Linked DNA regions of Homo sapiens. The protein of the gene in region 2 purifies or fractionates together with the protein of the main gene of each other region. This does not show direct contact. Each region holds a gene or a part of one and is shown on either strand. Other genes may lie near its edges. The genes, in order: PPTC7, HS3ST4, SLC25A14 and PPP4R3B.

Region 1 (7,697 bases), on a different chromosome or scaffold from region 2:
GCAGTCAACTTGTACACAAAACTTAAAAATAAGTTTCAGCTTGCAGATAATGTGAAAACTGAATGCGGGGTAGTTTTGTAAGGAAACTATACACTGCAAAATGGCTATTTGGAAACTGTAAACATTAAGCTTGATTCAGAAACCCCTAAATTTCCATGTGGGGTAATTGTAAATGTCAGATCATCACTGGGAGTTTTCCTCATGGACGTCTGTGCTGCTGCCGCTGCGCACACAGTGCTCTCTCCACATGGACTCACTGGATTTGGTGCATGCTCTATAGAAAGCAAGGCTACTAATAAAAGGTCTGAGAGTACGAGTATGGGTAGGTAGCATGACCACTGAAAGCCAACAAAATTCAAAGTTACAGCTGTCTGTTCTCAACCCTTCAGGCCTTGGGACCTAGAGTTCCCATTCAGGGGCATTCTATCAGACAACTAGGAGGAATTTCAGCCATAACAATTAAATTTCTAGGCTTTGAGGGGTTTTACAACCTTGAGTATTATTTCCATAAAAAAATACTGGTAAAGTGTCTCCCCTACCCCTCCTGGAGATCAGGCCTTAGCCTGTGATTTGGACTAATCAATAAACTGCCAAAACTTTAACCACAGGAACACAAACATCTTTTTAAAAGCATGAAATATTTCCATCCATAGAACTAAAATGGATTTTTCTCCCGATTTGTAACAAAAAAGCTTTTGGGATCAAAACTGTATAACCCAGAGCAATGTTTTAGAGCAGAATCATAAGCCCCTGAAAAATAGGAGTTTATAACAAAGACATAAAGCCACACCAATCATCATAACAAAGACTATGCCTGTGGAGTACACATGTAACATTTCTTTTGATGAATAATGTATGTTTCTAGTAGATGTATCATTACGTACAATTTGTGTTAGACTTGTACCATCCCTTTAGCATACTAGGATTTTGAATTCACTTTACCAACATTACTCATTTTCAATACTTCAACTACTTTGAAAAGTAACAGCCACGGTGGCACTGAACACCTCCATCCCCATCATGGAAAGAACATCGAGAAATGAAGGCCAATCTTCAAATATTGGATCTCTTCAATTGCTGCCGGCAGATATGAGCTAGTGAATGATAGTAGTGGTTCTCAACAAAGATCTCAACGAGTCTCAAGAAGACAGGCAAAAGACTTACATCACTGGCCATTGAGATCAGTGGCAAAGAAATGTGGTCCTGCCAGCAGGATCAGCACACATGGCAGGGGAAATTTGGGATGATGAAAGGAAAGGCAGGACTTGACACCTCAGCTAGTCTGTATACTCAGCCACTATTGAAAGAAGGACGGTGATGTCATCTGGCTTTCCACCTACAATGAAAATGAGAACCTATCAGTATATTTTAAAAGGAAAAGTCAATAAAAAATGTGTACTTAAATTAAGTACTAGGAGACAAATGCTTGCATTCCAGGCAGTTTTGGTTTGTCAGTATACCCTAGTAGAATAAAGAAAAAAATATTTGATTAAAAAAAAACAGTTAAACAAAACTCCAAGAAATTACATGAAACTGAAGCTTAAAAAAAAAAATCTTCCCTGCTCCTTTACAACAGGAGCTCTATTCAAACAGCCACCACACCCTCTGTTCACATCAATCACAGTGAATCTGACGAGAAAGTTACATGCTTCTATACCCACAATCCTAATTTAGACAGACATATCCAATGTTTTGAAACTAGGAATAGCCTTGTATTCTAATCTGCCAAACAGCTATGGCATGCACTTTTTCTATTTTAACATTTTTTGGAGGACTAAGAAATGTTTCACATGTCATAAAATTATACCAACAAGAAACTAATTCTACTAGCTCTGATATGCTAGCACCAACATGTCCCAGCCCTGAGACGGAGCCACTGGCCTGCTCCCAAAGTCACACATCATGCTGTAGATAGGACAAGTCTTCAGTCAAGGGCAGTTTCACATTGCTTCCCTCTTCAAACCCTGCTGTGGCAATTTGTCAGGCAAATACTGTTGAGTCCCACAAAGCCAGAGGAAGGGAGAAGCGAAATGTCAGACACGTGAAAGGCTGAATGTTAAACTGTTAGGAATGTCCACGCACTCTGGGCAGAGCTCGGAAGCCTTTTGGGTTCAGGTCCAAGCATTGCGGTGGCGGCAATAAAGGGCTTCAGGTTCCACCTGCCTCTGCCGCCAATGAGGTTCAGTTCTGAAGGGCATGCTGTGTGGGGAAGACATGACGAAATGCACTTGCTCTCATCCTCCTGACCTTGCTGAAAGCCACAAGTGCACAGTTTGGGGGCTGGGAGAGGACACCTCCACAGTCTCACCCAGAGCCCAGAATGCTCCACTCTACTGACACCATGTCCCCAGTCAGTCCCTATGACCTTCCCAAAGAATGCTTACCTCTCACATTCAATCCATTGTCACATGCAAACTGTGCAAAAGGTGACATATAATTTGGGTCATAGGCCAGCTCATGAGCTTGCTCAGCAATGCTTCTGGCAGTCTGTTGTATACTCTCATAATTTGAATTCTAAGATAAAGCATGAGGAAGTTATTTTACCATAATGCTCAAGACAGTAACATTTATCTAACCACCTTTTCCATCATGTAAGTTTTATTCTAGTTAGAAAAGACATTAAAACATCATGCCCTGGCTAATATGAACAAGACTCCAGTGCTGCCTGCACAAGGTATCAATCAGAAAGTCCTTTGCTTTGGTGGCCTTAAGCCCTAAAGTTTGGATTTTCATTTTTGCTTTTTTTCCCATTTGAAATTCTTAAGGTATTCTTGCTAAAATAGGATGAACTGAAAAGGCAGATTCTGATAGCCTTTGAAGGATACCTCAAAAGCTTCCTTGCTTAGGAACACAGCCTGGCCAACCCCAGTTTGCTCTCCAAGAGCTACCAGTTGCTCTAGTGAAAATACCTTCAGAATTTTATATCAGGAAGAGATTCCTGTCGAGCTGTGAAATCTTGGGCCATACCTTTATCCTTGCTGCTCCAACTTCCTCATCTGCAAAACGGGGATGGGAACACGAGGTCCACTTCAGCTCTAGTTTCAGTATAATGACAGGTCTCTGCTTCAATGTCACCTCCTCAAAAAGGCCCTTCCTGACCAATCTATCTAAAGTAGTAGCAGTCCCTTCTACTCTCTATTCCCTTATCCAGCTTTGTTTTTCTTATTTAGCACCCACATTACATCATAGATTTACTTCCCTGTATTTATCTATTTTCCTCCACTAGGATGTAAGTTCCATACAGGTAGGGACTGTGTAGATTCTGCTCACCACTGTGTCACCACACAGAGCACGGTGCCTGTGACAAGGAAGCACCTCACACTGACTGCACTCCACAGACAAGGCGTGGCGCTAAGGAGTTCCTACACAGGGCTGTAGTTAATCCTCACTGCAACCCTATAAAAGAGGATCTTTAGGATGCCCCATTTTATATGAAGAAAATACTGCTTAAACAGTTTTAAGAAACCCTCAGATCTCAGCAACTTCAATAAATAATAAAAAAAAGAAAGAAACGTACCCAAAGTCATACTGGTTAGAGGTAAAGACTCATGAGAAAAAGACTCATTTTTCCCAGAGTATGTTCACAAAGCCAGGAAAAAATTGAAAGCCTAGTTTCACCTCCTTCCTCTATGGGAGAAACCCATACTATTTGGTTACTGGTGGCAGCTCAGGTCACACTGAGGCTTCCAGTGGCCTGCTGCCTTTGGCTGGCTCTGGCATGACTATTTCCTGTCTTTGCCTGATTCAACACCTGCTGGGTGTTAGAAGAATAAAAGGAGAAACAACCAGGACCCGACACCATTAAAATATAAATAAAGATACAAACAAGAAATGCCCTCCATCTAGACTTTTCCTACTTCTACCAGCCTATGAAAACCTTGGGTAGGAAGCTTCTTTTTCCAAGTGCTCTAATTATTTGAAAGACCAGAGCTATTATTATTTTCCTGAAATTCACAAAATAGTTCTTTCCAAAACTACAAAGAGATAATGCAACTGAATCCATAAAACTCAGCTATCCAGAGAGGGCCACTTTTCCCAAGAGCTAACCTTTGAGTTAATTACCTTTAACTTTTTTAGCTCCTGAAGAATCATATAATCAGGCATGTTGTCAAAGAGTCCATCTGTTGCCGTCAGGATAATGTCTCCTAGCTGGACATCGAAAGACGTGCTATCAGCAGCATCCGGACTGTGGCAAGGACAGGGGAGGGACAAAGTTAAGAAGGCCCTTTACAGATGAGTTGAAAATGTCCTACAGGCACTATTTTACAATGTAATAAGCTTTCTGCAAGAAAAACTGATTTATCATAATGGAGTCAATTTTTAAAAAAAGTCATTCTGAAATTCCCAACTCTGAAAAAAGTTAATCGAAAATTCTAATATAAATGTTTCAAATTTTTAACTGAAACTACCGAGTAAAACCAAGTCTGATGATTAGTCACAAGTGGCTGAGAAGGAGGGAGGAAGGGTCCTCTTCTGAGTCAGATCTAACACACCTCTAAAATCCTAGTGGAAATGAGTCTTTATTCCTAATTCTTTACAGCCGAATTCCATCCCCCCCCGCCTTTTTTTTTTTTTTTTTTGGAGACAAGTCTCGCTCTGTTGTCGAGGCTGGAATGCAGTGGCACGATATAGGCTCACTGCAACCTCTGCCTCTTGGGTTCAAGCGATTCTCCTGTCTCAGCCTCCCAAGTAGCTGGGACTACAGGCATGTAAAATAGTGCCTGTAGGACCACAGTCATGCACCACCACGCCTAATTTGTTTTTACATTTTTAGTAGAGACAGGGTTTTGCCACGTTGGCCAGGCTGGTCTTGAACTCCTGACCTCAGGTGATCCGCCTGCCCCGGCCTCCCAAAGTGCTGGGATTACAGGCATGAGCCACTGTAATCACCAGCCACCCAGCCCACCCCCTCTTATTCACATATTTCACTCATCAGTTTCCTCGAATATTTGAATCTGGGTCCTGGAGTGCCATAGTGAGGGTGGGATGATGAATACCTGTGGAGAACAACATGCCAATCTTTTTTTTTTTTTTGAGACAGAGTCTCGCTCTGTCGCCCAGGCTGGAGTTCAGTGGCGCGATCTCGGCTCACTGCGAGCTCCGCTTCCTGGGTTCACGCCATTCTCCTGGCGCAGCCTCCCGAGTAGCTGGGACTACAGGTGCCCGCAACCATGCCCGGCTAATTTTTTGTATTTTTAGTAGAGACAGGGTTTCACCATGTTGGCCAGGATGGTCTTGATCTCCTGACCTCGTGATCTGCCCGCCTTGGCCTCTCAAAGTGCTGGGATAACAGGCGTGAGCCACTGCGCCCAGCCGCCAATCTTATAAGAATTCATTCACTGCTGGGTGTGGTGGCTCACGCCTGTAATCCCAGCACTTTGGGAGGCCAAGGTGGGTGGATCACCTGAGGTCAGGAGTGCAAGACCAGCCTGACCAACACGGTGAAACCCCGTCTCTACTAAAAATTAAAAAATTAGCCAGGCGTGGTGGCACACGCTTGTGATCCCAGCTATTCAGGAGGCTGAGGCAGGAGAATTGCTTGAACCCGGGAGATGGAGGTTGCAGTGAGCCAGTGAGCCAAGATCGTGCCACTGCCCTCCAGCCTGGCAACAGAGTGAGACTCCATCTCAAAGAAAAAGAAAAAGGAAAAAAATAATTCATTCACTTGCCAGTCGCAGTGGCTCACGCTTGTAATCCCTGCACTTTGGGAGGCCAAGGCGGGCGGATCACCTGAGGTCAGGAGTTTGAGACCAGCCTGGTTAAAACCCGTTTCTACCAAAAATACAAAAAATTAGCTGGGCGTGGTGGCACACGCCTGTAATCCCAGCTACTAGGGAGGCTGAGGCAGGAGAATCACTTGAACCTGGGAGGCAGAGGTTGCAGTGAGCTGAGATTGCACCATTGCACTCCAGCTAGGGCAACGAGAGCTAAACTCCGTCTCAAAAAAAAAAAAAAAAAAAAAGAATACATTCACCGGAAATAGCTACAGTATTTTGGCATAGTAAGGACTCTGTGTCTCCCAAGGGTCCCAAAGTGGTCATCATACGTAGGTATTTATTAGTGTGCCTCATGTAACACGTCTTCAAGAAATATCTTGATATCTTGACCAGGCGTGGTGGCTCACCCCTGTAATCCCAGCACTTTGGGAAGCCGAGGCAAGCAGATTATTTGAGGTCAGGAGTTCAAGACCAGCCTGGCCATCATGGTGAAACCCCATCTCTGCTAAAAATACAAACGTTAGCCAAGCATGGTGGCGTGCGCCTATAATCCCAGCTACTTGGGAGGCCGACACAGGAGAATCACTTGCTTCAACCCCAAAGCTGAAGGTTGCAGTGAGCTGAGATGGCGCCACTGCACTCTAGCCTGGGCAACAGAGCAAGACTCCATCTCAAGAAAAAAAAAAAATAGAAGAAATATCTGTTGCATAACTGAATGAAGCAGCAAAATATTTGACTCTCCAAATTGGGGGAAAAAACTCTTCAATATACTGTTGAAGAAAGCAAGGTGAAGACGGTGTGTCGTATGTGCAACCATTTCCGTAAAAAAAAAAAGGCAGAAAGACACACAGACATGGATGCTTCTATATGCAGGGAATAGATCTGGAGAGAATCAAAGAAACTGCTCATAGCGGGCTGTGGGTGGTGGCTCACACCTGTAATCCCAGCACTTTGGGAGGCCAAGGTGGGCAGATCACTTGAGGTCAGGAGTTCAAGACCAGCCTGCCCAACATGGTGAAACCCTGTCTCTACTAAAAAATACAAAAAGTTAGATCATGGTGGTGCACACCTGTAATTCCAGCTACTCGGGAGGCTGAAGCAGGAGAATTGCTAGAGCCAGGGAGGCAGCAGTAGCAGTGAGCCGAGATTGCGCCACTGCACTCCAGCAGCCTGGGCAGCAGAGCGAGACTCTGTCTCAAAAAAAAAAAAAAAAAAAAAAAAAAGAAAAAGAAACTAAAGAAACTGCTCATAAAGAAACCTTTGAGGACAGAATATGTGGCTAAGGGCAGGAACAGGAGGCAGATGTCTCACTAAACTTTTTTGTGTACAACTCTTGAAAAAAAAAACAGATGGAAGATCTTTTTCTCTGACAATGCCTGATGAAAACAGACATAAAAATGGGGGAAAACCCCGGGTGGGGAGAAAAGATCCTATATTCAGAGATCATGGCCTCCTGAGGCTGGTTCTTGGCGACTTCTTAAGGCCAGTTTCCCTCCTTCCAGGCCTCCCTGGGGAGGGAAAGGTGAGATCTGATAATCCGCCTTAATCTGTAATTAAGGAACAAGAGCCAGGAAAGCAAATCAGATACCGACCCGGAAGGGAGGCACCAGATCCAAAGCACCCTAAGCTCCACGGAAAAACCCCAACACTTGTGTAAGCAACATGTGACAACATTTGTGAAGAGAAAGCATAAAAACTAACAAACAAAAGCACACATGCCTATGAGGATTCACACTAAATGCACTCAGAAAATTTCTGGTTCATCTTCACTTGACTGAGGAAAAAGGTGGCACATGTAAAGTTCTGCCATGTGCTGCTGCAGGGAACCGACTTTCACTTACATATTTAGATAATCAACATTTTGTAAAAATGTCTACTAAAGGAAAACCTGTAAGTTAAGGTTAAAATAATATTCTGTAGATAAGAGGGACCATTAACTAAGGAGATACATGCAGCATGAAAAAAAAAAAAGGGAAAAAG
Region 2 (7,697 bases):
AATCAAACTGATGGGAAGGGACACTTCATTCAGCAGCTCTTGATGGGGGTTTCTGCAGACAGCCCTTGCTCACCCCCAACCCTCATAAACTGGATCTGATGAATGGAGTCAGCTTTCTCGCCACTACCTCACTCTCTGCCATCTCTAAATAGAGAAAATGAAGCCCGAGGAGGTGGTGGTGGGGCAAATTGGAAGAATGCTGACTGCTCCTTTCTCCATTACATGGCTAAGGATTATTCCTAATAACAGACTTGTCAACTCTCTGGTCTTTGCCCTTCTAGGGACCCTAGGGGACAGAGTCCACCCCAAAAACATGCTCAGAACTACAGTGCTTGGGAGAGATGGTCTTCAGGTAAGGTAACCTCCCACCAAGAGGACAGGATTTCTTCTTTTACCCCCAGATATGGCCACTCATCTCTGCCAACCCCAGAGCTCTGACCTCGGTTACAATTACTCTACTCTTTGAGCAGCCCTGTGGGCCTGATCCGAACACAAGGGCATATGCTAAGCTTCTGCACAACCCAGGATACTCATGAAGAGTGAGACCCAACCCCATTTAGAGGGCTCTTGGAAAGAAGGCTTCGAGGTGTGTCAGCTTTCATTTTCTTCTGTGTGTGTGTGTGTGGGTGGGTGTGTGTTTTCTTTTTCAGTGAGGAATGTGCATGCCTCTGCCTTCATGATGTGGGGAGGGAGGAAGTCAGGGGTTGTGGGATGAGACCTTTAAAGAGAAGACTAGAAACACCTTAGAGGGAGGACCTTGCTCCCTAGGAGTCCTGGAGCACTCAGCCACAAAGTGCATTCTGGGGAGAAGCCCAAGCAGAGGTTTAGACAGCAGGTGCCCATGACAGATACAGGGCTAGAACCCTGGCTCCCCAAGCTAGAGTGAGAACCCCTATAAAGCAGACCTTTTTTGTCGCTCACATATACATTAATAGCACTGTCTCTGACATTGACAACTATTTATCCTCTGTCTTCAGGCTATATTAACTAGCAGAAGATAAGAATGAACAGTGGGTTCTGGTGGCCATCTGGTCAACCAGATGCTGCTGCCCAGATGGGCCTGGTTCCTCCATGGGGATGCCATGGGATCCACCTGTTTGCCTAAGCTAACAGCACTGGAGGCAATCCTGGCTGCATGAAGGAGGAGGAGATCTACTTGGCACTCCAGCAAGTGAAGCTGCAGAAGCTGGGGTATTCAAGGACTCAGGCAAGGAGCCTCCTTAGCTTATTGACTAGCCTTCCTCTGCCTCTCTAGCCTCATTTATCACCCTCTTCCTGTTCCCACTGAAAATCTTGACCAGTCATTTGGTAAAACATCAAGTTGAAGGGTTTGTAGAATTTCCTCAGTCTGTGGATGACATCTGGGTCAATGCGAGGATGAGTCCGACCTTTGCTCTTGCCTAAGCACCTCGGGGCACTGCTGTCTTCTGGCTTCTTTAGGCAAGGGAACCCCTTGGTTTTGTTGAAATAGAAATGCTTCTCAGTCACAACACGTTTGAGGCCTAGAAAATCCTGTACTTTGGCCATTTCCCCGGCGGGGTCCACAATGAGTCGCTCACCACTGACAAAGAGGATCTGGGAGAGGGGGAAATACTGGAGCCAGTTTTCCAGATGCAGCGCATAGATCCCTATTCGAATGGCACTCCAGGAAGCATCGATCAGCCCGAGGGTCCGGTTTTTGAAGGCCAGCACCTCAAAGGTGGGGATCTCGGGTTTCTTTGACAGTGTCTGCGTGTAGTCAGAGATGGCCCTGGTCACGGGGTTTCTCACCACCACAATCAGTTTGATGTCCTTGGCCATGGAGTGAATGCGCTTGGGAGCCTCATTTGTCACAAAGTAACTTGGAGTCTTCTCCATGGTTATTTGCCCATCCAAAGTCTTGGGCATCACATTTCTAGGAGAGGGAGGAAAAAGGAAGAGAATGGTTATTCCTGTCCAGAAATATCTGAACTTCTTTGCACAAAATGTGTGATATAAACAACCTAGTTTGGAACCACCAAATAAAATTGATAAACTCTTGCAAGTTCTTCTTACCTATATCTCCTGACTATAGTCTTACCCTGGCTACGTATTATCAGAAAAGGCAACACAAGGCATATACATTCTCTCCCTTATATATCCCTAGGTTTAAATGGCTATTCTACCTCTTACCAGTTATGTTTAACCTAGATACACCCTTGATTTCTCTACGTATTAGTTGTATAATCCCTGAAACAGAGATAATGATAGCACTGACTTCACACTGTAGTATAAGGATTAAGGGAGATAATGCTCAAAAAGCATTGAGCAATGAAGCTGGCATGTGTAAGAGTTCAATAAATTAAAGAAATTATTATTGTTATAGTAGTTTTTAGAAAATCTTTGAGCTCAACAAGACCTCAAAGCTTATCTAGTCCAGGATTGGCAAACTACCTCCTGCCTCCTATTTTCGTCTAACTCACAGATAAGAATGATTTGTAATCACTGAATTGTTGTTGAAAAAAAAACCAAAAAGATAATAATAATATTTTGTGATGCATGAAAATTATATAGAATTCAAATTTCAATGTTTATAAATAAACTTCCATTGGAACACAGCCACATTCATTCATTTACATATTCATCTAGGCTGCTTTTACAGTAAAACAGCAGAGCTGAGGAGGTAAGACAGAGGCCATATGGCCCAAAGCCTAATGTATTTACTCCTTATTCCTTTAAGAAAGAGTCTGCTGATCCCTGACTTGGTCCAAAGGTATTATTGTGCAAATGAGAAAACCGAAGCCCAGGGACAGGGAATAAACATGGAAATCAGACAGGCTTTGTGACCTCAGCAAATTGAATTATATCTTCGAGCCTTATTATCCTCATTTGTAAAATCCTAAAACCTACCTCAAATCCCAGCACTTTGGGAGGCTGAGGAAGGCAGATCACAAGGTCAGGAGTTCAAGACCAGCCTGGCCAATATGGTGAAACCCCATCACTACTAAAATACAAAAATTAGCCGGGCATGGTGGCACGCGCCTGCAGTCCCAGCTACTTGGGAGGCTGAGGCAGGAAAATCACTTGGACCCAGGAGGCAGAGGTTGCAGTGAGCTGAGATTGTGCCACTGCACTCCAGTCTGGGTGACAGAGTGAGACTCCATCTCAATCAAAAAAAAAAAAAAGAAAAGAAAAGAAAAGAAAAGAAAAGAAAAGAAAATTCAGTTGAGAGGAAAATGACATATAAGATGAAAGATCTAGCATAGGTATGGCTCAATATATGGGATTTTATTCTTTCTTTGCTCCCAAAATTGCCCAGAAAGCCACTGACAGATCCCATACCAGGGTCAGTATCTCTTGGTTCCTTTGCTAAGGCTGCTCCTCCACTCCCATTCCTCCATCCGAGTTTGCCTCCAGAGTAGCCTTATCTTATTTGGGAGCTCCAAGATATTAATATTAAAGGGGTTTGATGCCATTTTCCCCTAATCTCAATGTGGCAGGCTTATCAATGATAAAATTAAGCTTAGAATGCCATTATACAGTCAATTTGCTACAGGCATATGTAGACCAAAGTTAATTGAAGATAAACCTGTTCAATACCTGTCAGTACAGCAGGCCATCTGCCACCATGTGCTCCATTAAATCTATTCACTTCTGAGCCTTGCACCAAAGTGGTGCATTTAGGATTACACAAGACCTCTTTGTTATGATGACATGCTTTTAAATGTCTTAGCTAATAAAACTTAATACAGACAAAGATCCCCTAGCTTCTCCTACCATAATTAAATTTATTTACTATCGCGTGTGTGGAGAAAGAATGACTTTTCTTTTATCTCTAATTCACATGCTCTGTCAATAATTAATTGCAACTGGGTTTTGAGCTATCTCGGCAAGCACTTTTATGAGGCAAGAGGAATTTGCCTCGTAGAGAAATTCACAAAGAGCTGGATGTTGTTAGTATAATGGTTGGGCAGCGTGGTGTTTTCAGATCAAAGCAATAGCCCTGGCCATAAACAACCATGCTCATCTTGGAGTGACATATTCTCCAAAGTAGTTTGAATGCCTTTGTGTGTGTCTGTTTGGTTCTCAACAGATCAATTTGTCTAATTTGGAGGAACAGGGCTAAGGAATGCAGCCCCTGGGAATCAGATTTGCCTGAATTAAGAGTTCTGATTACCCATGCTACCTTGATGAAGTTACTTAACCCATTTTGACCCTTAATGTTTCATCAAAGAAAATAGGGTTAATAAAAGGCCATGCCTCATAGGATTTTAATGAAGATTAAATGTCATAATGCAGGTAAATCACTTGGGATCATGCCGGTTCAATGTCAGAATTTTTTTAACTTAAGCCAGCTGGCCAAAATCAGGATTATTCTTACAGTAATTCTTACAGAAGGGCAAGGAAAAAAAAAATACTTCATTTGACCAAATGGAAAAGGCAGGAAAACATGGTATCTAAGGAACTGATCTAGAAAAAAGTATACTCTAATTCATGCCAATATCATCAATTGCACTTCCGGATCTGGAGGCTGGTGTCCAACAAGGGAGCTACCATTAGCTCAGCCTGAGTATAGGAAATATACTGACCATCTTATTTTTATTTCAAGTGGAGAGATATATTCCCTTGTTTCATTATGCAACTCATATCATATTATAAAAATATTAGATAAATCTTGATGCAAAAACACATCACCTGAAAATAGCTATTTTTATACGGCCTTTTCCAGATTTTAGTTCCCCTGATGTACTTTTGACACACAAAACTAAACACATTATTTTGTTGCATTTTTCTTTAGTGTAGGAGCAGCTGCTCAACTTTTCTTTTCATCCATTCTTCACCTTTGCCTTCTTAGACCTCAATGCTTCTCTTTGCACTGAGCCCCATTCAAATTCATCTCCTTTACTTCAGCTGATTGACGATCTGTCAAGATCTTTGTGGATCTTGAGTCTTTTATCTGAAGTATCTGGGACAAAATGGTACCCAACATATAAGCTGGTAGATTTAGCAGAGTAGATGTGTGCCTAACTTACTGCTTGTTGCAAAAGGAAATAAGAGAAGGCATTGCAGAAGGCTTTGGAGACAGTAGAGGGGAGCAGAGGAGACTAAATAGCTTTGACCTTCATGCTACCCATGAATGTGAAAAGTATATACTTTAGGAGAGTTTTTGCATTTGGGGCACACATGGGGAGACTATCTCATTGAGCCATGATTCAACCAATGTGGCATGAGTTATCCAGTTATTTTGTCAGTGAGAAGATATCCAGTAGTTGCTTGAAATCTATAAAGGACAAAGCTCCCTTTCCTCAAACTGATTCTGAATCAGTTATAGTCATTCATTCATTCTTTCATTCATTCCATAAATGATCACTATGGGTAATGTAACAGTAAACAAAACGGATGCAGTCCCTTCCTCCACTAAGCTACCAGTCTAGCTCCCACAGCTGATACATAAAGAGCTCTTTATAGCATCATATAATGAAGTATTTAAATCAACAGAGCAGGCATCATTATTACTCCAGTTTTACAGAGAAGGAAACAGGACCAGAAGCTAAAGATTTGTTCCAAGGTCTCACTAAGTATGTATTTTGTTTCTAAGTTGAGTGGCTGAGCAAGAGTAATTCAACACCAGGATCGGTGACAGGTCCTGGCAAATAACAGGTTCTCAGTGCCTATCTGTTGAGTGAATAGATGGGTGAATGACAAGCCATTAATCTCCACTCCTAAGTGTAGGCCAGTCCTAATGCTAGGTTTTTGTTGTGAAAGGTTTTGATGCCTTAATCTTCCTTTTCCCCACTTTCATCTCTCACCTGGGGCTCCGATCCAGTAACTACTTCCAAACCATGCTGGTCTCCCTCTTCCTGTAAGATTAGAGGAGGCATCCCTCCTGTGGATAGGACAAAACCCCCTGCTAACCTGGGCTTTGGATCTTATTCTCTTCCAACCTTTCAGGCACTTTTTCTCTCAATTTCTCTTCTCTCTTCTAGGTTTTAAGTAAGTTCATTTTAACTGCATCTGACACTTCAATATACTCATGTTCTCACATTTTGGTGTGCTTGAGAAACAGAAGGAAGACCAGTAACGCTGGAGGGCAGTGAGCAAAGGTAAGAGAGTCAGAAAATAGGGCCAGGAAGACAGACAGGGAATAGACTATGGAGGGCCTTATGGGCCATGGAAAAGGTACTGGAATTGTTTTCCTCATGTGATGAGAAGCCACTGAAGAATATCTCACAGAAGAATGTGATAAAATTTACACTTAATTTTATTTTTCTGGTAACTTTGCTGAGAAAAGATAGGAGTGTGGCAGAGATAGAAGGAAAGTAACCTGCTAAGAGACAATTTTAGGAGAGAAAGAGAGAAATGGTGGGGGGCCTGGGTGTAGGTGGAGAGGGCAACACAGAAAGAAGTGCTCAGAATAGGAGTAGATTTTAAAATAAGGCCAGAAGTCCTTAATGATGGGTGGGATGTATGTGCAAGAGAAAGAGAAGCATCACAGGTGACACCAACATTGTTGGCCTGTGCCAGTGGCTACATGGTAGCATGATTTACTGATGTGGACACTACTGGGAACAGGGCAGGTTTTAGGGGAAGATACCAAGTCAATTTCAGACTTGTAATATGAGATATGTCCTACATACCCAGGTGGAGGGATTGAGTAATCATGTTGACACAGGAGGCTGAAATCCAAGGGAGATCCAGATAAGAAGTGGACATCTATGTCCTGTGTTCAAGTTCCACCTGCCAGGGAGTAGGGAGAAGAATGTCTGCCCTCTTTACCTTTGTTAGAAGAAGACACGACTGTCCTCTGCCTATGCTGGGAGTTCTCTCAAAACTGAAAGGTGTTCAGATGCTAGGTGTGCAAAAAAAATTGTGTTTTATTTCATTACAAAGATGTTCATGAACTTCTTCTAATTCCCAGAGTCCTTGTTAACTACCTGCGTTACAGGGCTTAGAATAATGTCATAATATGATTTGTTCCCATGTCTTTCATGGCTAGTCTCAGTTCCTTGGGGCTGTAGGCAAAGTTTTAATCACCTTTGTATCCCCAGCGCCAAACACAGTGTCTGACATGTACTAGCTGCCCCATTACTATTTGTGGTTACTGGATGAAAAACAAACGACATTCCAATGAATACATGGTCTCTGGAAGTCAGGAGAACTGGGACATGCAGGACATGGCTCATCTAAGTAGGTGTTCCATGCATGGGGTTCAGCGTTTCTGACTTTCCTCCCATCCCTGTCTGAAAGACCATGCACTTCAGCGTGAACCATATGGTGAGAAAACACTGCATCTGGGCTTGGCACAGCTCGTTAACAGTATCTTGGGCGCTCAGAGCAGCCGTGACATCAGCGTCAACACACAGTCCTGAAGCGAGAATCATTCCGCAAGATCACACATCTGCTCTCACAGCCCCAAATGTTTATGAGACACTCTCCAACTCACTCGCCCTGTCCCCACTGCACTCTCCTGGTCCTGGTGCTTTGCTAAGAACAGCCCAGTTTCTCTTTTGAAAGAGTTAGGGTCTCACTCTGTTGCCCAGACTGGAATGCAGTGGTGCGATGATGGCTCACTGCAACCTTGAATTCCTGGAGCACAGCCACTTTTGAATGCAGGTCAGCCTCTGGGGTCCTCACAGAAACAATAACAATAGTTAACATGCAGCCTAGACTGAGCACAGCCATTCACTGAGTGCTCACTCCATGCTATGTTCTGAGGCTGAGAGTGCAAATTCTGAAGC
Region 3 (7,697 bases), on a different chromosome or scaffold from region 2:
GAAATGCTTGCATTTTAAAAAAAAAAAAGGGGGGGGGGGGGTAGAGTCTCAAATCAATAATCTATGCTCCTACCTCAAGAAACTAGAAAAAGAAAAGCAAAATAACCCAAAGCAAGCAAAAGAAAATAATAAAAAGCACAAATCAATGAAATTGAAAATAGGAAAATAGAGAAAAATCAATGAAACAAAAAGTTAGCTCTTTAAAAAAAAATCAACAAAATTGATAAACCTCTAGCAAGACTCACAAAGATAAAAAGACAGAAGATGCAAATAAGAAATGAAACAGGGACTAGCACTACAATTCCTGCAGCCATTAAAAGGACAATAAGAGTATGGTATAAACAACTTTATACTCATAAATTCAACACCTTAGAAGAAATGGACAAATTCCTTGAAAACCAGAAGCTACCAAAACTCAACTAGATAAAACAAATAATCTGAATAAAACTCATACCCATTGCAATGGACTGAATGTTTGTATCGTCCCCAAATCAAGATCTTAAAATCCTAACCCGCAATATGATGGTAATAGGAGGTGATTAGGTCATGAGGGTAAAGCCCTCATGAACAGGATTAGTGCCCTTATAAAAGGGATCCCAGAGAGCTCCCTCACTCTGTCTGCCATGTGAGGATACAATAAGAAGTCTTGGCAGTCTGCAACCCAGAAAAGAGACCTCAGCAGAACCTGACCAAACTGGCACCGATCTCAGATTTCCTGCCTCCAGAACTGTGAGAAATAAATTCCGATTGTTTATAAGTCACCCAGTCTATGGTATTTTGTTATAGCACCCCAAACTATGATAACCTTAAAGAATTTGCACTCTGAATTTAAATGTTCCCCAAAAAGAAATAGCCCCAGATAATTTCACTGGGGAATTCTACAAAACATTTTAAAAATTAACACTAAGCTTACACAGTTCCTTCCAGAAAACAGAAGAGGGAATGCTTCCCAACTAATTTTGGCTAGTATTACCCTGATACCAAAACCAGACAAAAACAGTACAAAAAAGGAAAACCACAGACTAATGTCTCTCATGAACTTAGATGCAAAACTCCTTAAGAAAATATTGGTAAATTGAATCCAGCAATGTATAAAAAGAATTATACATCATTGCTCACCTAATAAAGATTTTTTTAAAAAAATCAACCTCTACTTCCTAACAGTTGCAGATACGTCTTTAATCACATCAACAAGGAGGTACTAGAGCCAAAATTCCACCCTATTTAAGTTCTCCTTTAAACTGGAGACATTCTCATTCATACCTCCTTTGGGATTCTTCCAAATTGCAGAACTATACTGTAGGAGGTATAAATAGAAAGACAGCAGCAGCTCAAATGGTTAGGATTTTTAAATGATGACTAAATATGCATATTTCTGACTTTATTGCTTGCTATCAGAAAATATCTTGTGATGATCTATGCTGATGAAAGAACAAGGTGAAACAGATGATCCACAAATCAGGATGGTGGATCATCTTCAGGATGCTTCAGGATACACTACTTGATTTTTCCCCCAAGAAAATTACCTTTTAAATTAAGTCTAACATAGTTTAACGATGTAACATAGTTTAACAATAAAATTGATGTCTATTCTCTGAGTAATAAACTGGTAGCCTAGATGCAGGAGTGGCCTAGGAAACTGGCAACAGATAAACTACAAACTAGACAGTAAACCACAAAATTATGGCTAATCAAAAGGTGATGATAAAGATGGGTCTCCCTCTCTCTCATTATGCACTTTCTGTTTAAACTGCAAGAATAATATTTTTTCAAAGAGGAAAATTTTAAAGGAAGTCAGAATTTGCCAACTCAGGAGGGATATCACAAAAATATATATAATTAATTGGTGCTGTTATTAACAGTGGCTATTAGTGACTCTCGGGAAATCCACAGAAAGCCTATGCTGCAATGACATATCCATTTTAAAATGTTATTATCACTTATAACCAAATGAACACAAAATCCAAAGCTCAAGACTTACAAGCAGGAGAAATATAAACTGGCATATCAATACTGAATTACAAGTTGAAATGGTGAATATGAAACGGACACAAACTATCAGACAGCTGAAAACTATGGCTTCTTTAAAAAGCATTTCTGTTAATGATATAAGGAAAGAACCAGTCTCACCCTGAATAGAGAGCCAATACACCTTCCTCTTTACAGATGCGAAACAGCGCATGGAACATCCCTCTATATTTTATCTCTTTGAAACGGGCATCAATGCTTTGGCCTTGAACCTGAAGTCGTGTTTTGGTAAGGTCCACAGGGAAAGTCCCTATAAAGGAACACACTTATTTATAAGTATGTCCAAAGAATCACAGTTAAGTTGTTGCTAAATATAAGCCAAGGACAATATTTGAATCCTAAGACAAAGTCCTTTTTATAACACATAGAAGAGCTCTAGTAGAATACCACTGTCAGAGAACATGAGTTGCATGTGGTAAGTGAAATGCATTATACTATACATAGGCAGCACCAATTGACCCACAATATACTTCAAACTGTAATATAATAAAATGCTTTCAGATTGCCCTATTATAAATGCAAAATAATTAAATGTTGTTTTTTATTTCATCTGTAACATATAATCTGGCATTTATCAGTCTCCCTCCTGCCCCTTCCCACCCCAAGTCTCCCCACCTCTGTGTCTCATAAAATCTCCCTAAATTTTCACAAAGATAGGAAAGCATGGGATTGCTGCTCCAGATGCTCTTATATAGTGTTACAAAGTTTTGTGGGGTTTTTCTTTTATCTGTTTACAAGAAACAAATAGTCCCCTAATATTATGAAAGATAATGGCAAAGTCTTATTTGGTTCTACTCATCCTGGTCCCTTAGGTAATTCAGGACTAATACCAGCAGAGTGTTTGGGGGGGAAATTTCTTTAACCAAACCTCTTACATCAACAAACAGAAGTGGTCATCACATTGACAAAATATATTTCAGGGTGTAAAACTAACAAGGTGATTAGGTAGCTCTGGTCACTGATGACCCAAATATCACAACACCACAGGATATGCCAAGAACGTCAGTAGTCACTCATGAATAGTTTAGAAAAGAGAACATCTGGAAGATGAAAAAAACGACAATCTAAAAATATTTCAAAATCAAAATCATGTAGAAGAGAATCTTGTTTGATCTTGTTAGTACATTTTCTTCTAAAATGGGAAAGAGGTTTGAAAAAAAGGACTTTCAGTACAAATAAACTTATAAATAATTTAGCATAAAAGACTATTAATACAGAAATATAGCAAAAACCCTTATGACATATCAACTCCCTCTATATATTCATGTATTTTACTTAAGCCTAGCAAACTAACAAATCACTAAACTACCAAAAAAGCTTTCCTTAGTTTGACTTTTCTTAACTCATCTGCCATACCATCAGTAGTACTTTCCCTGAAATATTACTTCATGGCTTTGAGACAATTTTCAAAATAAGGCGAGCTTCTTATTTTTTACCTAGCTTTCACCAAAAATAACCATCATCATAAGCTACCATCTATACCGTATAATGCAGATTTGTCATTTCTCACATTCTTACCAAACTCAGCCACGATAGAGGCAAGGCCGCCATATACAAAGGGTTTCCAATTCAGACCAGACATCTCATGACTTACAGTGGTACTTTTCTGGTGCTAAAAATAAACACAAATCAGAACAAGGCACAAGAGTGAGGAGCATTTGTTAGCATCTGATCATATAATTTAGATAAACAAAATTGGCAAATAAAATAGATGTAGAAGAAAAACCCCACCAAGTGGAATGACACAAAAATGGGGGATCCTGTTTTATGTGCTGGATGATCATGAGTTTGTTCTTTACTGACATTTTGTAGGGGTAGGCGTGTGATTCACTCAGAGATCAACCTGTGCCCTTCATTCTCTCCAGTTTCTTTAATGTTATATTCATCCCCACCCAGAGAAGAGGCTTCAGTCCATCCAGCACACCCAACTTTGACATTCAACTAGATAATTACAAATGAAGGAACCCGGAATTCAAATTATATAGGCTGAGGCATCTCATAAAAGCAGTTCATGGTATTCAGTTAGCTTGATTCAGGTGCAAAGCACAGGCTCACACTACTACTCTCTCATATTCTTAGCCCTCCTATCTCTCTACTATAGGGTTTCTAGCTATATATAACTTTGTCCCCCCAACTAGGCCCAGGCTGAGCTAAGAACTTTTTCACCTTCCTTCTAGCGCCCAAAGGAATGATAGCAATATGATGTCTATCTTCCCTCTGACATTTAACGTACATCCATCTAGTGGATCTCCTTTTCCTTCCTCTTGGCCTTTTAAAACACACACATATAAATACTGTTCTTCTTTTATGTTCTAGTTCTTTAACAACGTATTCTGCTCCCAGCCTCCCTTTTCTCCTTCCCTATCCCACCCCCGTTAGACCTGTCATCATCAATCTTTTCAGCTTTACTCTCTTTTTCTGCCACTGTCAGCTTGCTCTCTCTTGGATTTTATTTTTTCCAGAGCTCTGGCCTCTAGGTTTTGCAAATTTTAGCATGTATTAGAATCATCTAGAAGGTCTATTAAAACATAGATTGTTGGGCCTCTCCCCCAGAGTTTCTGATTGGTGGTATGGCCCTGAGAATTTGCAAGATCCCAAATAACGCTGATACTTCCACACTTAAGAACTGCTCTAGGCATTGCCTACTAAATCCTGGTCCATCTGAAAGTAGTATCTGTTCTTAGCATGGACTCTCAGATTTCTTTCAAATATTCCTTTTTCAGAGCTTCACAGTATGTATACTTCTGAATTTCAAAAGCAACTTCCAAGTGGTTTATGGTGAGGAATGCAGACTCCTGAAGTCAGACTGTTAAAATTTAAATGCTAACTCCAGATTCATTTCCTGACTCCACCACTTACTAGTTCTGTGACCTTGGGCAAGTTAATCTCTCTATGCCTCCACTTTCTGAACTGTAAAATGGAACTAATAATAAAAACTATATCATAGGGTTGTTGTGAAAATTAAATAATATATGAAAAACACCTTTAAAAGTGCCTGGCATGTAGCTCAATAATTGTTAGTTAACTATCATTATTACATTTTTAAAAATTTAAGTACCCAAATTTACATCTTAACAGATATTACTTGCTGCCCACCCCTCCCTCCCATTGCCCAGTCTGGGGTTAGCAGCTATGAGTCACAGTATCCCTTTGAAGGTTTTGCTTTGTTTCCACATAAGGAATTCTCTGTAACTAAGCAAAATACAATTTTCCAGAGAAGATAGCAAACACGCTGATTAAATGTTTTAGTTACAGGCCACAAAAATCATTATGGAGGCTTCCTTTCAAGCATAGCACATATAGAGTCTGGGATAGATAGCCCTTTTGAGGGAAAGTTGTTGAAAAGAATTCTAATGAGCAAAGTAGGAATAGCCACTTCAAGTATCAACTGCAGCTGGAAATAGGAGTCTTGAAGACTAAATACTACCTTATCACCATTTCTAGCTATGCCCACATTTTCCAATTAGAATTGATAGTAAAATATGACACATATGGTGAGAGTAGAGATGGAAAAGCAAGACCATGGCATATCCCCTCTTTGAGTTTGTGAGGAAAAAATTAACTCTCCATTCACAAATTTATCGATTGCCCCAAATAGTCTTAAAGGTTTCAGACAGCTACTTTTACTTAAAGTTGTCTCTCCAAAACTTTTTCTCCTTACAACTTTTTTCAACTCTTTGTATTACAGAGAAAGCCTCTATCGGAACTTCACAAGCTGCTACCAGCCCTTTAATAAGGAAAATGTGCTCAGGGAGCAATGATGAATCAGTGAAAGGCAAGGAACAGGGAGGACATGGCAGGAAGATGAAAGACCAGTCGCTGAATCTTAGGCCAGTTAGCCCAGTGGTTCCCTAATGAAGTTCCCACAATTCTGGGGCGAAATGAAAAAAATAAGGACACTTAGTCCTTTTTTTTTTTTTCAGCTAAATGTATTTAATTTAGGGACTGTCTATTATTAACAGATCAGATTCTTCTTACGCCTGGAGCACAGGCTAACTAGCCTGTATTTGTGTACCCTTCCCACATTTTCATTTACATTTTACTGGCCCATGAAATCCAAAAATCTGGAGACCACAGGCAAAACCCACCATTGCCACAATCACGACTTCCCTACCCCCATCTGATAGTAAAATCTCTTTCACTCCAATGTTAGGAAAAAATCTTATGAAGAAATCCTGGATCATATTTGATTAGATCTGTTTTTAGACACTCCCTCCTCATATTGAGCCAAAAGTCTGTCTTCCTCTAATTTGTACCCAGTCTTTGGAGGTAATATTCAACAAATGCATTCTTTTTTCCCTAGGCAAGCCCTTCAAATATTTAAAGACAGCTATGATGTTCTCTTACATCTCATGTTTCTTGAGCTAAATATCCATGATCTTTCTCTTCATTTGACACATTATACTTCAATTACTAGAGCTTAAAATTGCACTCACTTTTTTGGGAGCCACATCACACTATCAAATCATTAAACTGTCAGCTGAAACCTCCAAGTCTTTTACATAAAGTTGTCTACATGCATGCGTGTTGTGTCACACCTATTCTACAGGTGTGCAATATTTTTTGAACCTTCTTTTATCCCTTCTATATCTTAATCTCAGGCATAAAAATAATGACTAGGATGAGGGTCAACTTCAAGATGTCCAATGTTATTTCCTCTCTTAACTAAGTAAGATCCCCAAGGGAAGATACTATATCTCACAGTACTTTTTATAACCCCCATTATAGCTTGCATAGAATTGAATACATATCCATTCAATACTTAGTTGGTTTTGCAGTGTGACATCCTTTACCTATGTATGCAGCCTGTATATAAAAGATTGCAGAGGAAACAAGGAAGGTAACTTGCTGGACCTGGCCAATGCTACACACCCTGTGTATGACACTATCTTGATCCCCAGATATTCTCTGCCTGCGAACCCTGTTCCCTTGCTTTTGTTCCAAGGAATTACTTATGTAAAATACCCCAAGCCCTCTAAAAATTATTTTAACTTGTAGGGGCTAACCCCAAATATGCGTAAAAGTAGTCATATCTAAGGTAAAATAAAAATATAGTACCCTAAATATTTTTACTGTATAAAGAAACCAATGAAAATTGTCTTCAAAATGCCAACATTTATTCTGAAGATCTGACTTCGGAGAATTTGATAGACTAATGAGTGAAAGTAAGAATGTCCTACAATACAAGTTACATTGCCCTATACTACTCCCAAGATCTGGTCAGGAAACTCTGGGTGCCTCTCCTGCTTTCTCCTTTAAGAAAGAGTAGAAATTAGAGATTCTCAGATTCAGAAGGTAACAATGGAGAGCCAAGCAGATATTTATTGAAGGCATGCTAAATGCCCAAACCTGCAATGCACTTTGGGTATAATCATATTTGAAAAACACAGATATTCGTTCTAGCACCAAGACAATATTTACCACTCAACCTGTCTTTTCTGAATAACCAATGAGATGGGACAGAGAAAAAAGTACGAAATACAGTACTTGCCTTTCAAGAGCTTATAATCTGGTGGAAGAAATCAAAGTAGTGCGTTAGAGAAAAATTAAGTACTAAACTGTGTAGTACAAACTTTAAGAGCAAGAGGAGCATAGAAAAGACTACAACCAGCATGGGATTGACTAATTTGAAAATTGCCGAGGTGAGAGAACCTAAATTGAACCTTGAG
Region 4 (7,697 bases), on a different chromosome or scaffold from region 2:
CTCAGGTGTTTCTTTTCGTATTTCATTGACTCCTTTTGGACCTTATGCACTGCAGCCTGAACATCCATCTTTTGAGGGAGTTTATATGCATATGTAATCTTTTATTTAGCCCTCAAGTTAGTTTTTCCTTTTTTTTTTTTTCTAGAGTCTCACTCTGTTGCCCAGGCTGGAGTGCAGTGGTACAAACGTGGCTCAGTGTAGCCTCGACCTCCTGGACTCAAGCAATCTTCCTCCCTCAGACTCCCATGTAACAGAGACTGCGGGCACGTGCCACCATACCTGGCTATTTTTTTTTTAATTTTTTGTACAGATGGGGGGGTTTCACTTTGTTGCCCAGGCTGGTATCGAACTCCTGGCCTCAAGCAATCCTCCCACCTCAGCCTCCCAAAGTGCTAGGACTACAGGCATGAGCCACCATGCCCAGCCTACTTTTTCCAAATACTTTTAGTCTTAATATTTTAGGTTAGGGTGAGTAAGTACATATTTACCTCCATTCACACCTTTTATAAATTTCTATTTTCCTGCATCTGTTGTAGATTACATCTTCATCCTTTACTACCTGAAAATTTAATTTTTTCAAAATATTTTCATAAGAAAAAAGTTCCAACTCCTTGATAAATGCAATTTCCCACTTGAATTCTTCTTATATGATTCGGTACTTGTGAGCTGATAAGTAGAACTGCATAAAATATTACAGATAGAGGCAATCTCAATTATTACAGTCCATTAAGAGAATATGTATTCCTAGTATTTTTTCCCTGATTTCCAGCATTACTCTGGCTATTATTCATTAAGCTATAAAAGCACTCTGTTCCAATATATTTATGAAGGAAGCAAATAATCAATAACTTAAAGCCTATCATATAGTTGAAATACTTACTCCAAAATCTCTGGTTCTCCAAGTAATCAAACTAATCTCTTTTAGTTTTTCTTTTCTATTTGGTTTTAACAGCTTTTGTTTTAATAAAACCTATATATTTAAGTCAAAACTTGTGTGGCTGCTTTTCTGGACAACATAAAAAAACACTGTGGGGAAAAAAAGAGGTTGCTTCTAAACAGTCTAAATCAAACTCTTCTCTTTGCAGTAATATAAATACAGGCCAAACAAAAGAAAAAACAGAACCCATTCATTTTTAGAAACATATAAACACAGAAATTTAGAATTAAATCAGATTTTGCAACATTACAGAGACTGTCAAGTCCAATTTTAAATTTCAAGAGACTGAGGTTCAAAAAGTGAACCTTTCTGAGGGTAGCTAGTGACAGATGGATTTAGAATCCAGGCCTCCCAAATAATTAATGAGGTTTTTGTCACTCCTACTAAGTAAACCACAAGACAGGTTTCCAAGTATTTCAAACTTCAAACGTATGAATCAAACCAAAGCAAAAGATACACAAAGCTGGAATGGGCCAAATCTAGTAAGATAAAATTTAATATATTAAATCCTGTACTTGAATCCAAAGAAAAATCCTAAAAACAAAATGAAAAGCCCTATTACTCTAAACAGTTTTTTAAAGAGTATCTGAAGATTTTACATACTTAATCTGTAACTGGGATGGGAAGTTAGAAATTTTTCTCTTTCCGTGCCAAAACCTTAGCATCTGCAAAATATGTTAAAAAGAGAACTAAACCGCTAATCCTGCTGGGCTAATTTTAAGCTTAACTCTTACCTATGGAATAGCAGAAATATGTATATAATATAATATATGTAAATGTGTTAAAATGTCAACATTTGAGATTCCTATCCTCCATCATTTCTAGTAAGGAGAGAAATTAAAACTTTGTTCTGAAAAGGATCTTATTCTATAACTGTTTGTGCAGAAATAATCTCATTTTACTTGCTTTCAAAAATTTAATTTCTGGCTGGGGGCAGTGGCTCATGCCTGTAATCCCAGCACTTTGGTAGGCTGAGGCGGGTGGATCACCTGAGGTTGGGAGTTCAAGACCAGCCTGGCCAACATGGTGAAACTGTCTATACTAAAAATACAAAAATTAGCCAGGCATGGTGGCTGCTGCCTGTAATCCCAGCTCCCAGGAGGCTGAGGCTTGAGAATCACTTTAACCTGGGAGGCAGAGGCTGCAGTGAGCCAAGATGGCGCCACTGCACTCCAGCCTGGGTGACAGAGCGAGACTCTGTCTCAAAATAAATAAATAAATAATTTCTAAAATATTTTAAAAGAATGTTGCTCAATTCTGGGCACAGGGGATTTTGATCTGCAATTAGCTAGAACATTTGGAGTCACTAAAGTCTTATGTCCCTATCATGCTTAAGATATTGTCAACATGTATTAGCACACATACTAGGAGCCACTGACTATGCTAAGTACTCTCATATAATTTCTCAGTTAATTAACCTAATTTAAGCTAGGATTTATGATAAGGACCTTCGTACTACCTCACTTCGGCCCAGTTACATAAAATTCTTACATATTCACTTGCCTTCTACAACTCACACAGCAGCAAGTTAATGCGCATTTAAGAAACCACAGGTAAGTGTACTAGATACCCAGATAGGTATCTAGAAACACCTACTACCTAACCAAAAATTTCTACATGGAAATCTCAGAGTGAGACTTTAGGAAATAAGTGCTTAGAGGCCACTGTAGGGCCAGGTGTGGTGGTTCACATCTGTAATCCCAACACTTTGGAAGGCTGGGCACTAGGATTGCTTGAGGCCAGGTAAGAACAGTTTAGGCAACATAGCAAAACCCCACCTCTACAAAAAATAAAATAAAATAGAGACCACTGGCCACAATCTTATTTCTTTCCTTTTCACACATAGTTGAAAACACAATTCATACCCAAAGGAAAAAAAAGCATTATATTAAAAAGACACCTGCACTTGTATATTGATCGCAGCACTATTCATGATAGCAAAGTCATGGAACCCACCTAAGTGTCTACCAACAGATGATCAGACAAAGAAAATGGGGTGTATATATACACTGTGGAATACAAATGAAATGTTAAAAAATAATGAAATCATGTCTTTTGTAGCAACATGAATGGAGCTGGAGGCCATTATCCTAAGTGAACTCAGAGGCAGAAAATCATATATCGCATGTTCTCACTTACAAGTGGGTACACAAGGACATTAAGATGGAAATAACAGACACTGGGAACTCCAAAAAGGGGTAGGATGGGAGAGGACTGAAGGTTTAAAAATTATCTACTGGGCACTGTGTTCAATATCACGGTGATGGGTACACTAGAAGCCCAATCTCCACCATTACTCATGCAATACCCATGTAACAAATAAGCCTATGTGCCCTCTGAATCTAAAATAAAAAAAAAAAAAAAAAAATTCAACATCATTGCTGGCACATAAGAGATAATTAAGTAGTAAATGTTATGTAAATAACAGACAGTTCACAGAATCTGGCTATTTCATGAAATGCATCTCATGAAGCAGAAATGAGTAAATCTTTTAGAAAAATAAAAAGCTGCACTTGATTTACGTAATTATAGCCTTCACAAATAAACCTATTATAAAATACATAAAATGACAAAGTTTTACAAATATTTATAGTTCATATAATTTATTTTCTGAATATAAAAAAGTATTTACGATTTACTAGTATGAATTTGGAAACCCTTCTGAAGACAAAAACAGTCATTTGAAAGCTACATATGAGCTTCTGTTCCTGGTCCTCTTTTTATCAACTACAGACTGTGACTCTGTCCAATCTCCTAAGATTATTAAATGTTTTTCTGTCAACAAGTGAAATAGCACCCTGAATTGTATACTACAGTTTAAAAATACACAGGTCCTATATATTATAAAAAGAACCTGATATGTACATCTAACCTCCCCCACACTCATTATTGGTGAATAACAAAAAATTGGTAGGTGAATAAATGACCTGAAAGAAAAGTAAATCCTATGCAAAAAATTAAAGTAAACAATAATAGGTGACTACTGGTGGGAAACGTCGCAAAATGAAGTCGATTAGCTAGGCACTAAGTCAGAGATAGAATCTCAATTATTTGTATCAGGACCCTTTTAAACTTTTTTTTTTTTTTTTTTCAGACAGTCTCGCTCTGTCACCCTGGCTGGAGTACAGTGGCACAATCTCAGCTCACTGCAACCTCCGCCTCTCGGTTCAAGCAATTCTCCCACTTCAGCTTCCTGAGTAGCTGGGATTACAGGCACGTGCCACTGTGCCTGGCTAATTTTTGTATTTTTAGTAGAGATGGAGTTTCGCCATGTTGGTCAGGCTGGTCTCAAACTCCTGACCACAAGTGATCCTCCTGGCCTTGGCCTCCCAAAGTGCTGGGATTACAGGCATGAGCCACCACACCCAGCCTAAACTCTTAAGAATTATGCAGAGGCTGGGTACAGTGGCTCATATCTATAATCTCAGCACTTTGGGAGGGTGAGGAGCATCACTTGAGGCCAGGAGTTTGAGACCAGCCTGGGCAACACAGTGAGATCCTGTCTCTATATAAAAAATAAAATAAATTTTTAAAAATTACAATTAAAACCAAGACTCGTGAAAATATTTATGAATTCATTTTAAAATAAGTCATTTTATGTTTATGTAAATATTTTTTAAGAGAAACAGCTATATGATCCAAAATTTAAACTTTTATAAAAAAGAGTAGCCCCTTTTACATTTTTGCAAATCTCAATACCTGGCTTAACAAATGACAACCAGATACTCATTTATCTTTTCTGGCATTCAGTGTGTTGCAATATGTTCTTTAAGCAAAAGTACATGAAAAAAAAAAAAAAAACACAGCCTCACACTGACATCAAACTAGAAAAAGGAAAACCTCATAAATGCCTGTAAGAGGGGCTCAGGGACTTCCAGAGGTCCACAAACCACACTCTGAGATCCACAATACTAAGTATATAGTAGCTGCTCAATAAACTTAGTGAATGATATGGAAATAACAAAAGCAGTTATGCAGAAAGCTGAGTATAGGCTACTGTTACAAGTAAGACAAGTACTTAAAAAGCATGCTTACTATACTGTTAGGGTGTAAAGGATTAACATGATAAATATAGTATAAAACTCCTATTTCACAACTCAAGGAGACAGAATAAAATCACCTTCATATAGCAAATAGCCACATACTCGTATACACCCCAATAATAACAGTATCTCTCAAAATGGAAGAAAACATACTTTTAACCCTTTACCCATTGAGAAAAAAAAAGTACAGCTTGCTGCAAGGACTCATTTAATTTTACATAAACACGCTCTTTGAGGCCGAAGCAAATCTGACTTTCAAGGTGAAAATAAAATATAAAAACTGTTCTTGGAGTTATTTCTAAATAGAACTAACATCAGAATTGTTTGAATCATCAGATTCGTCTATTTCGAAAAAAAAAATCAGATTCAACAAACGAATCCTCGGGCAACAACTGTTCGAGAATGACAATACCATGTGCAGGACTGCTATGTTTTCTACGATTTGACATTTTCAGTGATTAACAATTACTATAGTTTGTAAATGAAAATATCACTATTAAAACCAGAATGCTATAAATAGAATGATGTCTTCTGTTTCCAAAGTCAATATGCCACAGCAATGCAAAAATAATAATAAAAGCTAGGTATTTTGTGGCAAAGTTATCTCAAGGTAAACACTGCAGCCAAGCACTACTGGCGAGTATTCACAGGACAGACAGGAAAAGGGTTAAATATAGCTGCATTGGCCAGGTGCAGTGGCTCACGCCTGTAATCCCAGCACTTTGGGAGGCCAAGGCGGGCGGATCACCTGAGGTCAGGAGTTTGAGACCAGCCTGGCCAACATGGTGAAACCCTGTTTCTACTAAAAATACAAAAAATTAGTCGAGTGTGGTGGCGTGTGCCTGTAATCCCAGCTACTGGGGAGGCTGAGGCAGGAGAATCGCTTGAACCCAGAAGGTGGAGGTTGCAATGAGCCGAAATCACACCATTGCACTCCAGCTTGGGCAACAAGAGTGAAACTCCGTCTCAAAATAATAATAATAAAAAATAGCTGCATCATCGATATATATAATAGGCAAATTCATAAAGAGTAGAATAGTGGTTACTAAGAGCTGGAAGGAGGGAATATGGGGAGTTACTGTTCAATGGGTTCAGAGTTTCTGTTTGGGATGATGAAAAAGTTCTGGAAATGGATAGTGGTAACTGCTGCATAACACTGCAAATATACTTAATGCCAATGAATTGTACACTTAAAAATTGTTGAAACTGGCCGGGCACAGTGACTCATGCCTGTAATCCAAGCACTTTGGGAGGCCGGGGCAGGTGGATCACCTCAGGTTGGGAGTTCGAGACCAGCCTGACCAACATGGAGAAACCCCCCTCTACTAAAAATACAAAAAATTGGGCTGGGCGGGGTGGCTCACGCCTGTAATCCCAGCACTTTGGGAGGCTGAGGTGGGTGGATCACAAGGTCAGGAGATCGAGACCATCCTGGCTAAAATGGTGAAACCTTGTCTCTACTAAAAACACAAAAAATTAGCTGGGCGTGATGGCGGGCGCCTGTAGTCCCAGCTACCCGGGAGGCTGAGGCAGGAGAATGGCGTGAACCCGGGAGGCGGAGCTTGCAGTGAGCCAAGATTGCGCCACTGCACTTCAGCCTGGGCGACCGAGCAAGACTCCGTCTCAAAAACAAACAAACAAACAAACAAACAAAACTAGCTCGGCGTGGAGGCACATGCCTGTAATCCCAGCTACTCAGGAGGCTGAGACAGGAGAATCACTTGAACCCAGGAGGCAGAGGTTGCGGCGAGCTGAGATCATGCCATTGCACTCCAGCTTGGGCAACAAGAGCAAAACTCCATCTCAAAAAATAAATAAATAAATAAATAGTCAAAACGGTGAATTTTATGTTATGTATATTCTACCTCAATTTTAGAAACACAAATACTAAATTGTATAAAAAGCTAAAACACAGGCTACTTAAAAATATAAAAGGCTGGGCTGGGCGCGGTGGCTCACGCCTATAATCCCAGCACTTTGGGAGGCTGAGGCGGGCGGACTGCCTGAGCTCAGGAGTTCAACACCAGTCTGGGCAACACAGTGAAACCCCTTCCCTACTAAAAATACAAAAAAATCAGCTGGGCATGGCAGTGCACACCTGTAGTCTCAGCTAATCGGGAGGCTGAGGAAGAAGAATTGCTTGAACCCGGGAAGCGTAGGTTGCAGTGAGCTGAGATTGCGCCACTGCATTCCAGCCTGGGCGACAGAACGAGACTCCGACTCAAAAAAATAAATAAAAGGTTGCACTAAAACCACAAGACATAAAGTCCCAATTTCTTTTGTTTACTTTAAATGTACTTAATAGTACATTTAAACAAAATAAATCTTTCAAAAAATAGAGGGTATAAACACCTGCTTGAACTATTAAGGGAACTAAATATCTGAAAAATGGAATCGTGAAGAGTATCTTTTTACTTACCTGCAACATGCTGACTATCTCAACTTTGTTGAAGAAAATAAAAGACGTAAGAGTAGAAAGAAAATTCTCTTCAAAAACAGATGGTGTGGGCAAAATGATGTCCTGAATGTACTGTACCCTGTAAGTCTGATGTATTTTTTGCCTTAGTTCAGAGTCTGTTATTGGTATAACTTCCTTGAACTTTGCAGTTTTGGTCAAGAATTCTCTATGTCTTTTTGGCTGAGCCAAAGCAGGGTCATATTCAAGGCATCCCACGACATCCATGATACACTCATCAGAAAACATTACCTCAAAAAGA

The links.
Region 1: the proteins of HS3ST4 (region 2) and PPTC7 purify together in Homo sapiens (affinity purification with mass spectrometry; one large-scale study listed by BioGRID and IntAct). This does not show direct contact.
Region 3: the proteins of HS3ST4 (region 2) and SLC25A14 purify together in Homo sapiens (affinity purification with mass spectrometry; one large-scale study listed by BioGRID and IntAct). This does not show direct contact.
Region 4: the proteins of HS3ST4 (region 2) and PPP4R3B purify together in Homo sapiens (affinity purification with mass spectrometry; one large-scale study listed by BioGRID and IntAct). This does not show direct contact.

Annotation. Positions count from the first base shown.
Region 1 is NC_000012.12:110,535,760-110,543,456, forward strand, and holds part of PPTC7 (protein phosphatase PTC7 homolog), read right to left. Parts: intron 4,187-7,697; coding exon 4,063-4,186; intron 2,997-4,062; coding exon of another isoform or gene 2,970-2,996; exon of another isoform or gene 2,968-2,969; intron 2,515-2,967; coding exon 2,385-2,514; intron 1,337-2,384; coding exon 1,278-1,336; 3' UTR 1-1,277. UniProt on the Homo sapiens protein: Protein phosphatase that plays an essential role in mitochondrial metabolism and biogenesis. Positively regulates biosynthesis of the ubiquinone, coenzyme Q. Dephosphorylates the ubiquinone biosynthesis protein COQ7 which is likely to lead to its activation.
Region 2 is NC_000016.10:26,129,809-26,137,505, reverse strand, and holds part of HS3ST4 (heparan sulfate glucosamine 3-O-sulfotransferase 4), read right to left. Parts: intron 1,895-7,697; coding exon 1,258-1,894; 3' UTR 1-1,257.
Region 3 is NC_000023.11:130,341,125-130,348,821, reverse strand, and holds part of SLC25A14 (brain mitochondrial carrier protein 1 isoform 1 precursor), read right to left. Parts: intron 3,641-7,697; coding exon 3,547-3,640; intron 2,279-3,546; coding exon 2,131-2,278; intron 1-2,130. UniProt on the Homo sapiens protein: Transports inorganic anions (sulfate, sulfite, thiosulfate and phosphate) and, to a lesser extent, a variety of dicarboxylates (e.g. malonate, malate and citramalate) and, even more so, aspartate and glutamate and tricarboxylates.
Region 4 is NC_000002.12:55,591,017-55,598,713, forward strand, and holds part of PPP4R3B (serine/threonine-protein phosphatase 4 regulatory subunit 3B), read right to left. Parts: coding exon 7,400-7,697; intron 559-7,399; exon of another isoform or gene 495-558; coding exon of another isoform or gene 489-494; intron 1-488. UniProt on the Homo sapiens protein: Regulatory subunit of serine/threonine-protein phosphatase 4 (PP4). May regulate the activity of PPP4C at centrosomal microtubule organizing centers.